Homo sapiens: one gene and its partners. The protein of the gene in region 1 purifies or fractionates together with the protein of each later gene. This does not show direct contact. Each region holds a gene or a part of one and is shown on either strand. Other genes may lie near its edges. The genes, in order: RABL2B, CEP43 and PPP2R3C.

Evidence for each region.
Region 2: the proteins of RABL2B (region 1) and CEP43 purify together in Homo sapiens (affinity purification with mass spectrometry; one large-scale study listed by BioGRID and IntAct). This does not show direct contact.
Region 3: the proteins of RABL2B (region 1) and PPP2R3C purify together in Homo sapiens (affinity purification with mass spectrometry; one large-scale study listed by BioGRID and IntAct). This does not show direct contact.

The regions. Positions count from the first base shown.
Region 1 is NC_000022.11:50,770,310-50,773,778, forward strand, and holds part of RABL2B (rab-like protein 2B), read right to left. Parts: intron 1-3,469. UniProt on the Homo sapiens protein: Small GTPase required for ciliation. Activated in a guanine nucleotide exchange factor (GEF)-independent manner via its intrinsic GDP for GTP nucleotide exchange ability.
Region 2 is NC_000006.12:167,002,397-167,006,050, reverse strand, and holds part of CEP43 (centrosomal protein 43), read right to left. Parts: intron 2,859-3,654; coding exon 2,804-2,858; intron 2,329-2,803; coding exon 2,240-2,328; intron 1,788-2,239; coding exon 1,650-1,787; intron 1-1,649. UniProt on the Homo sapiens protein: Required for anchoring microtubules to the centrosomes. Required for ciliation.
Region 3 is NC_000014.9:35,104,973-35,108,626, forward strand, and holds part of PPP2R3C (serine/threonine-protein phosphatase 2A regulatory subunit B'' subunit gamma), read right to left. Parts: intron 3,265-3,654; coding exon 3,167-3,264; intron 2,403-3,166; coding exon 2,332-2,402; intron 1-2,331. UniProt on the Homo sapiens protein: May regulate MCM3AP phosphorylation through phosphatase recruitment. May act as a negative regulator of ABCB1 expression and function through the dephosphorylation of ABCB1 by TFPI2/PPP2R3C complex.

The DNA of each region.
Region 1 (3,469 bases):
GTTTGAGACCAGCCTGGCCAACATGGTGAAATTCCGTCTCTACTAAAAATGCAAAAAATTAGCTGGGCCTGGTGGCGCATGCCTGTAATCTCAGCTACTTGGGAGGCTGAGGCAGGAGAATTGCTTGAACTAGGGAGACAGAGGTTGCAGCGAGCCCAGATCATGCCATTGCACTCCAGCCTGGGCAACAAGAGCAAAACTCTGTCTGAAATAAACAAATAAATAACGTATTCCTTTTTTGTTATCTTGTCATCTAATCTTATTCACCTATTTTAACAATCATAAATGGAATCAATTTGCCAATTGATGCAGTCTGTTAGAAATTGTAAAAACTTTTGTGTTTTTTAGTCCTCTTGTATTTATTGCTTAAACTGTTTTAAAGTTCCTCTGTAGTAACCGTAAATGTTTCTAGAGTTTTACTTTAGTTACTATTTACTTTTATTTATTTATTTACTTTTTAGAGACAGGGTTTCACTGTCACCCAGGCTAGAATGCAGTGGCTCAATCACAGCTCACTGTAACCTCAAAACTCCTGGGCTCAAGGAATCCTCCTACCTCAGCCTCCCAAGTAGCACGCACGCATTAATTTTTATTTTTTTATTTTTTTTTTTTTGTAGAGGCAGGCTCTCCCTATGTTACCCAGGCTCATCTCAAACTCTTGGCCTCAAGGGATCCTCCCACCTGGGCCTCTAAAGGTGCTGGGGTTACAAGTGTTAGCCATCACAACTGCCCCTGATTTTTTTTTTTTTTTTAGACGGAGTCTCACTCTGTTACCCAGGCTGGAGTGTGGTGGCATAATCTCAGCTCACTGCAACCTTTGCCTTCTGTGTTCAAGTGATTCTCTTGTCTCGGCCTCCTCAGTAGCTGGGACTACAGGTGTGCGCCACCATGCCTGGCTAATTTTTTTATTTTTAGTAGAGACAGGGTTTTGCCATGTTGGCCAGGCTGGTCTCGAACTCTTGATCTCAAGGGATCTCCATATATGGAGTCTTGCTCTGTTGCCCAGGCTGGAGTGCAGTGGCGCTATCTTGGCTCACTGCCACTGCAACCTCCACTTCCTAGGTTCAAGTGATTCTCTTGTCTCAGCCTCCGGAGTAGCTGGGATTACAGGTGCGCACCACCATGCCTGGCTAATTTTTGTAGTTTTAGTAGAGACAGGGTTTCATCATGTTGGCCAGGCTGGTCTCAAACTCTTGACCTGCAGTGATCTGCCTGCCTAGGCCTCCCAAAGTACTGGGATTACAGGCATGAGCTACTGCACCTGGCTGATTTACTTTTAAGCTTCTGTTTACTTCTTTGTTCTTTCTGCTTTTTGTTTTTTGAGATAGGGTCTTACTCTGTCAGCCAGGCTGGAGTGCAGTGGCAGAATCTTGGCTTACTGCTCCTCCACCCCCTGGGCTCCGGTGATCCTACCTCAGCCTCCTGAGTAGCTGGAACTACAGGCACATGCCACCATGCCTGGCTAATTTTGTTTATTTTTTGTAGAGATAAGCTCTCATTATATTAACGAGGCTGGTCTTGGACTCCCGGTCTCAAGTGATCCTCCTGCCTCGGCCTCCCAAATTTCTGGGATTACAGGCATAAGCCACTGTGCCCGGCCTCTTTAAATTTTTTTAAAGTAATTTTTATGTTTTATTATTTGCAGTTCATAATTGTATTACTTTATAATTTGTTTTTACCTATTTTATTTTTATTTATTTATGTATTTATTTTGAGATGGAGTCTTGCTCTGTTGCCCAGGCTAGAGTGCAGTGGCGGTATCTTGGCTCACTGCCACTGCAACCTCCACCTCCTGGGTTCAAACGATTCTCCTGTCTTCAAATGATTCTCCTGTCTCAGCCTCCTGAGTAGCTGGATTACAGGTGCGCACCACCACGCCTGGCTAATTTTTGTATTTCTAGTAGAGACGGGGTTTCAACATGTTGGTCAGGCTGGTCTCGAACTCCTGACCTCAGGTGATCTGCCCGCCTAGGCCTCCCAAAGTACTGGGATTAAAGGCATGAGTCACCGCGCCCAGCCTGTTTCTACCTATTTTAAAATATCAGCAAGAAGGATGAGCACTGCAAACCAGCTCTTAAGGGCAGAACTCTGAAAGACAACTGAGCTGCTGCTACAGTGAGCCTTCATGCCCTTCACAGGAGCTCCTCCAAAGTGTCTAGCCCAAACTGCCCTAGTACAACAGTCAGTGGATTAAAGTTACAGACAACCACCACCCTGTAACCGCTGGCACAGCTGACCTCACTTCTAAATCACCCAGCTATTTGTGCAAGCAACACGGTTCAAGCTCAGGGCTAGGGGCTCGCCCTGTGTGGTGGCGGGAGGGTCAGCAACTGTCACATCTCAAGAGGTGGCAGGAAGTCTATGTAGATTCTCTTTCACAGGCAAATTTCAATGAATCACCAGGTTGTCTTGAATTCCCGATGAAGACTCCTTATAAAGGATGTCTGTAACTAAACTTCTGGAATCTGCCTCACACCAGGCTCAGATGCCTTTTGTCCAGGTCTGGTTTCCTGAGCATCTGTTCCTTGTTTTGAGAGCTGAGGAGGAGCTGGCTAGAATGAGGAGCATCCCCATCTCAAGGTTTCAAGGTGGAGGGTCGAGCCCTGGTTCCGTCTCTGACCCTCAGCTCCCCGTGTGGTCAGAAGGCAAGTGCTTTCTACTCGCCAGGGCCCGTGCAGCAGACTGGGGCTGGTGGCAGGCACCTGCAGACACAGGCATGGTGGCAGGAGAGACACCCCAGGCCTTCAGAAGAGGGTCTGAGGGGAGCCCACGGAGATGCAGCAGATGCAGGAAGCAGTCACTCCAAGAGAAAAAGAGAGGTGAGCTCAAAATACCAAATGCCACTGTAGGCCTGAAACCAAACTGGCTAGGACCAAGCTCCTCTGCTCTTGAGGGTCAGACTTCTGCACTACACTGCCCCCATTTTCCTTGCCCCATCATCCTCTTGTTTAGTGCCTTAACAGTTATCAGAGTTAAAGCTTTTGGAATTTTTCAAGGGATTTTGTTCTCAAGGGGCAGTCGGGGGAATTAGGTGATGAGTTCCTTCCTTTACCATCTGCAAAGGGTCAGAAGGGAAGAATCCTCACTGTCCTCACCACTGGTATCTGTACTGTGCCTACCAGTCAGTCAGTTCCTGGGGGCAGCACGTGTGTCTTTCCACCTGGGCACTCCCAGCATCCTGCACACGTGCATCACAGACAGTCCATGTTGTGGAAGGGATCAGTGGTGCAGGAGCACACACGAAAGAGCTAAGCTAATGACAAACATCAGAGGAGGCTGCACGGAGGTGGTGGCATTGAAGCAGGGCCTGAAAAATGAGCAGAGTTTCAAATAAAGGGGTGTGAGCTGGGGAGAGGCTGAGGGAAGAGCATGAAGGAAGGTGTGCAGAGGAGCAGGTGACAATGAGCAGAACAGAGCAGCTCCTTCTGCATCCCCTCTGCTATTGCTTCTTACAGATGAGATGACACCT
Region 2 (3,654 bases), on another chromosome or scaffold:
CGGAGGCTGAGTGACTGCAGGCTCACAGAGCTAGAATGTAGCAGAGCTGGGGTTTCACCCAAGTAACCTGGTTCCAGAGTCCATGCTAGTGGTATGTTAAGGAAGAAAGATCAATCTAGACAGAAAAATATGCATAAACACCACTGCAATGAGGTGAGCCAAAGCACAACTACTAAACAGAAAAGAAAATGAAAGGGCAGTTAGAAAGAGAAGAGAGTTCTTCAGGGCCACAGAAGCCGAGAGGGGAAAGCCAATAAAGAGAGGTCATCATGACCTACAGACTGCTGGCCCCAGGAGACTGGGTTCTTTAGTTTGTTTTTGATTGCCCAGTACCCAGCACAGTATCTATCAAATAAGCGCACAATAAAAGCTTGCTGGATATTGATAAATGAAGGAATGAAATTATATGCACAAGCTGAAGTGACAACCTGCGCTCTGGGTGAGCCGCCTCACTCCCAGCCAGCCTGGGATCTGGCTATGCTCTCCTGCTCCCACGCTTGGCTGGCACCGTTCCAACTTCTCGGAAAGCCCTTCCCAATCCTCGCCCCACAACTGACATCCTACTCTCACTTTAAAATTGACTTCAATAAAATTTTGGCATGTGACAATCGCTTCCTCCTCTAAACTATTCATAATATGGTTGGAAATAATGTGTTAAATGACAATTCCTCCATAATCTTAAACTGTTATTTAAATGTTAATTTCCTTATTTGAGCACATTTTATCTTAAATAGCTCTGCGCTATTCAGAGACACAGAAGTTTCTTATATTTTATCTTATAGTACCCACAAAGTCTATTTACCATGCCTTACACATAATTAGTACTCAGGCAAGCTTTATCAATTTTCAAAAATTCTAATAGAAAACATCCTCTGAGACTCACCAAAGAAAATAACTGGAAACCTATACAGCCCTCCACATTCTTACCTATAAATTTCTGACTAAAAGCTCACATTTAATCAAATATCTGGAACAGTTACAGATGTTACCTGTATCTATAAAACAGAGTATCTTCATGTAAAATTAATGTATGAAAATAAAATTATATCATTAATCTCATTAGCACAATTTCTAAAAAAAGGTTAAGAGTATGAAAAGTACTACTGATCAAAAAAGTGTAAGTTTGAACTGTTTCTAAACAGCGTAAAGCAAAATCAACAGCTTAGTTTTAAGCCTAAAGAGGCCTTTAAGTCCAAAAATTTATTAACTATCCTATAAATCAGCCCTTTTATATTTAAATAAGATGTTTTAATAAAAATAATAGCAAGTTGAGTGCTTCTGTTGGCTTATGCAGAGAAGCCTCAGAACACCAAGGTAGGGCCTGGTAGAGCCCACTTCATACACAGTATGGAATGAATGGAGGATCAAGTGAGGCAACGAGGAGTTGGGATTTGTTCCAGACAGTTTAGCTCATGACCCAACACTCTTGAGGATCAAAAACCAGAACAGATATGCCACAGAATCACAGTCAGCACATTCCTAATTTTCATTAAAATTTGCATTGATACAATCTGAATGCATCTCATTTTGTTTTTAAGGAATATCTTCTAGTATGAAAACCTTAATTTACTATATATGCACTAATCTGCATGGCTAAACTAAGCAGCCAATAATTAAAATAGAAAAAGATAACACAGAATTCTACTTACTTCCCCAGTGGTTGGCCCTTTTTCTTTCTGTTGACAGCGCCTGATCACTTCTAATAATAAGGGTCCACCCACAGTACCTTCTGCTTCAATTATACCTAAATCTCGGGCTAAATTCTCTCGACCTTCGAGACCTTGCAGCTAGAAAAGAAGTTAAAATACAAGTGCACAAAAAAATAGCAGAAGTTATTCTCAAGGAGTAAAGAAGATATTTTCAGAGTTTAAAGACATCTTTAAACTCAAAGAGACTGTCTTACTAATGAATGAAATGTCTATTTTAAAAAATTATGCCTATTTCTTTTACAGAGCCTCTACCTTCAACGTTTCCATTAACAGGTGCACTCTAACATCGTATCAAAATTAACTCTATAGTAACACTTTTATTAGCAAGCTTTCAAGTAACACAAAGCAGCAACACTGGTGCCAGCTATCTGAAAGCTCATATGGCTTTTAAGAAAAACAGATAATCAACTACCAAAAATAATCTAAATGTAAAAAACTATCAGTTGTCAAATTCTATTAACTTTCAGCTTAATATTAACTCATTTGTATCAAAGGTTTCAAAAGATAGATGTAAAAATCATTATTCTTACTGTGCTAGTTTCAGGTTGAAAAACAGCCAAAGTAAAGTCAAGGTTAAAAAACTGAAGAAATTCTGCAACAAGACTAGCCACTAAACGACCTATAAAGATCAAGAAAAAGGTAAGTAAGCAAATCTTCAAAAACTGAATTTTTTAAATTAACATTATGAAATAGATACACTAAATTAATGGAAGAAAGGTTTCTAAATTTTTTAAGTTACAAATTTCCTCTTTGAATAATATGATTAAGTAATGAAAATCTCAATCTCCTGATTTTTTCACTGGGATCATCAGTCTGTAACTAACTGTAAGACAATCATCTCATAGATTTCAGTGTTTCGCTTTTTAATGGTTAATATTGGCTTTTTGTAGTAAAACTGGCTTTAAGCAACAACATCCCAAATCCAAAAATATGTAATAGCAACACGATTGTTGTACAATAAAATATTATTTTAAAATGAGGACCTATAACAATTGAAGACAAAAAAAAAGCCCTGAAATTCCTGATTTCTCCCAAATGGTATCAAGATTCAAAAATTCAGAGATAGATAAACAAGAACAAACTGAACATCTTACCGTCTTTGGTATTTAAAAACTTTTTCAGGCTCTCATTAACTAAAGGAGTTTTGTTCTGTTAAAAAAAAAAAAATTTAAGTGTCATGTGTTTACCCTAAAAACAACTACAAAATATAAAGTTTAACGTTTTCATTGATAAAATTATGGTTTTACAAAATCCATTCTACAACTGTTAATTACTACAGGACTTACTTTGTGCTATTTAGTAATTTCTCAAAGTTAATATAACAAAACCATATATGAAGATTTGTATTTTTAATTTTTAAATGTTTTATAAACTGCTTTTGAAGCTAGATATTTTCAAATACCTGTGTGAAATACAATTAAATGTCAACAACTGTTTATTATTTCAAATACATGAAGTTTGATAAAAGTTTTGTCATCTCAGGTATCTACCATTTATAGCATACTTACTATGAACAGGAATTTAATTATACACTTGTAATTCCCAGTTTATCCATGAAATGTGAGATGATCTTATGCGGCCCATAGGCCAACTTATTTTTGTAATTATACATTTATTTGAATAAGTATGGAAAAAATACTTCTAGACCATCAAGCCTGTGATTGTTGCTGAGAAGAGGCTACAGTAGGTAGCACATGGTAAGCTTCCTTAAGACCACATTAATTGCTGCTACAGTGGCAGCCTCATACACTGCTGATGGGAATGCAAAATGGCATAACGAGTTTGGACAGCAATTTGGTAGTGTTTCTTAAAAGTCACAAATATTCCTAGCATGTGACCTAGTCACTTCACCTCTACATATTTTCTCAAGAGAAATCACAGATCCAAGCAAAGACTTGTATGTGACTGTTCACAGAAACCTTATTTGTAATACTCAAAAACTGGA
Region 3 (3,654 bases), on another chromosome or scaffold:
ATCCACTCGCCTTCACCTCCCAAAGTGCTGGGATTACAGGCGTGAGCTACCGTGTCTGGCTTCTCTTATATTTTCTTAAAAAAAAAAAAGCGGGGGGGTGGAATTCTTGGCCCTTTAAAAAATAGTGACACATTAATATCACTCATGAATAATCAAACGTTTTTCAGTGATTTTTAAATGTTAAAATGCTACATTCTTTTTATTTTCCCCTTTAAAAGGCTTTTTTTTTTGAGACAGTCCGCTCTTGTCACCCAGGCTGGAGTGCAATGGCACAATCTAGGCTCACTGCAACCTCCACCTCCTGGGTTCAAGCGATTCTCTTGTCTCAGCCTCCTGAGTAGCTGGGATTACAGGTGGCCACCACCATGCCTGGCTAATTTTTGTATTTTTAGTAGAGACGGGGTTTCTCCATGTTGGTCAGGCTGGTCTTGAACTCCTGACCTCAAGATCTGCCCACCTCGGCCTCCCAAAATGCTGGGATTATAGGCATGAGCCACCGCGCCCAGCCAAAAGGCCTTTTTTTTTTAAAGTTTGAAGAAAAAGAATCTAAAAAGGAATTTGTATAGTCAATATACATTAAACATTTGTTTAGTAACACATGTCATTTGTTAAAAAAAATAAAAATAAAAAACCAAACCCCAAAACGGAAACATCCTGTGTCTCAACAAAAACTATATGGAATCAACACCACCGAGGTCTATGGAAAAAAAAAGAAAAACCTGTTCCCTTTGCTCTGCTGGAAGCTGGAAGGTGCTAGGCCCTTGTGTAGTCGTGCATAGAATTCTAGCTGCTTTCCTCTATTGAGCGCAGAGTATACTATGTCTCTATGTGAATATGGACAGTTAGCATTTACCAACATCTCCTTGTCTACTGTGTCTTTTTTTTTTTGAGATGGAGTCTCGCTCTTTCGCCCAGGTTGGAGTGCAGTGGCGTGATCTCGGCTCACTGCAAGCTCCGCCTCCTGGGTTCATGCCATTCTCCTGCCTCAGCCTCCCAAGTAGCTGGAACTACAGGTGCCTGCCACCACGCCCGGCTAATTTTTTTTTGTATTTTTAGTAGAGATGGGGTTTCACCGTGTTAGCCAGAATGGTCTCGATCTCCTGACCTCGTGATCCGCCCGCCTCGGCCTCCCAAAGTGCTGGGATTACAGGCGTGAGCCACCACGCCCGGCATCCTTGTCTACTGTCTCTTATTTAAAAAAAGAAAATAAATTTTACAAAATGGGGTTATAGGTCAGCAAAGGGTAGGTTTGAAACGTTTTGATAGTTTAAAGTGAGCATTTTGACAACGTTGCTTTTCCTTTGGCATGTTTAATTGTGATTTTTAAGGGGCATCCTTGCAGTTTAAAATGACACCTTTAAAATAAATTCTCTCTCTCTTTTTTTTTGAGACAGGGTCTCCCTCTGTTGCCCAGGCTGGAGTGCAGTGGTGCAATCTCGGCTCACTGCAACCTCTGCCTCCCAGATTCAAGCGATTCTCCCACCTCAGCCCCTTGAATAGCTGGGATTACAGGTATGCACCACCACAGCCCAGCAAATTTTTCTATTTTTAGTAGAGATGGAATTTCACCATATTGGTCAGGCTGGTCTCAAACTCCTGACCTCAGGTGACCCGCCCACGTCAGCCTCCCAAAGTGCTGGGAGTACAGGCCTTGGGAATACAGGCGTGAGCCACTGCACCCAGCCAATACATTTTTTTTTTTTTTTTTTTTTGAGACGGAGTTTCACTCTTGTTGCCCAGGCTGGAGTGCAATGGCGCTATCTCGGTTCACAGCAACCTCTGCCTCCTGGGTTCAAGTGATTCTCCTGCCTCAGCCTTCCAAGTAGCTGGGATTACAGGTATGTGCCACCAAGCCTGGCTAATTTTGTATTTTTAGTAGAGATAGGGTTTCTCCATGTTGGTCAGGCTGGTCTCAAACTCCCGACCTCAGGTGATCCGCCTGCCTCATCCTTCCAAAGTGCTGGGATTACAGGTGTGAGCTACCACACCCAGCATAAATTCTCTCTTAATGATGACTTGAAGGCTGCTACTCCATGGGAGAATCAGTAGAACCTGTAGGATCTTATTTGGAATTGACATTCTCTATTGTAATTTTGTTTATTTTAAATTTGTTTTTTGTTTCACTGGAAAGATGATGTTCAATTTTAAAAGTTGAAAGTGTACAAGTTGCTTTGTTACAGTAAAACTAAATATGTACACACAAACACACACAGACAGAAATAAAACAAAGTATTATGAGAACAGCCTGTAATCCCAACACCCAGTGATAACTACAGTTTACATTTTAGTGTCTATAAGAGTTAATATAATATCTATAAGGTTAACACTTACAGATTCCCGAAGGTACCCCTGCCCAGCGACATCATATAAACTGAGTCCTATTCTTGTTTGATGAAGCCAAACTGACAATAAACAAGAAAATGAAAGTAATTCTTAAGATCTATCCTTCAGATATGAAAAAGGAGATAAAGAGCCAGATTTGAGACAAGCTAATCTAGTAACTCTAAAAACATTTCTTCTCACCACAAAATTGCTTGAAACAAAAAACCATAGAATGGAAGAGTTCAACAATTCTACCATGACTAAAGCTATAATAAAATTGACACCTTGAAGATACTGTTCTTTACCAATTAAACTTGGTGTTCCACCAAACAGGGACAGCTAGTATAATATTATGCCTTCAGTGAAGCTGCTTTTATTTCTGAGGTTAATTACAGCAACCAATTATTAAAGATTGTATACAATAGGCTTTCACAGATTATTATGGCACTTGTAGGAATCATAAGTCCAAGCTGTTTAATTGATGCTCCTTGAAACTGATATTACAGCTTTGGGTTTGAAACTATCAGTCAACTCAACTTGTAATATACTGGTAAAATAAAATTATCAGTAAATTAAAATTATTTCAAATTACCATACATTAAAACTCTTGGTTCAGCTCTTAATATTTCTAGTCTACTATTATCTTTAAGACACATGAGGGTTTAAAAAATTTTTGTTTTTTTATGCTAACCCAAGTTTATGTAACACATCTTGGTCAAAAGATAAGAAATTCTACTATTCAAACTTAGAGTGATTTCACATAGAAGAAATACTTATAAAAGCACAGACCAAAAACCTACTTGATTCCCAGATAAGGAGTTCAAGCACAGTAAAAATGAATCACCTTTTCTCATGACATAATTAAAGAACTGCATGATGGAAATTCTTCCATATGAATCTGTATGAAGGAGTTTAGCAAAGACTTTTGCTGTGAAAAATTGCCTAAGAAAAGAAAATAAAGATTTAAATGATCTGCCAACATAAAAGAAAATGACTTCTACATAAATTAGCAAACAATGGCATAAATTCATACAATTAAAAATGAAAGAACAATAGAGACTCCTTATAATTCAAAAACTTAAAATATTAAGTCAAACTTTTTTTTTTTTTTAAAAGAAATGGAGATTTGGCCAGGCGCAGTGGCTCTTGCCTGTAATCCCAGCACTTTGGGAGGCTGAGGCAGGCACATCATGAGTCAAGAGATCGAGACCATTTTGGCCAACATGGTGAAACCCCGTCTCTAGTAAAAATACAAAAAGTATTTGTATTGGGTATTTATATTGTATTATATTGTATTTATATTGGCCCAGCCAATATTTGAGGCATTTAAAA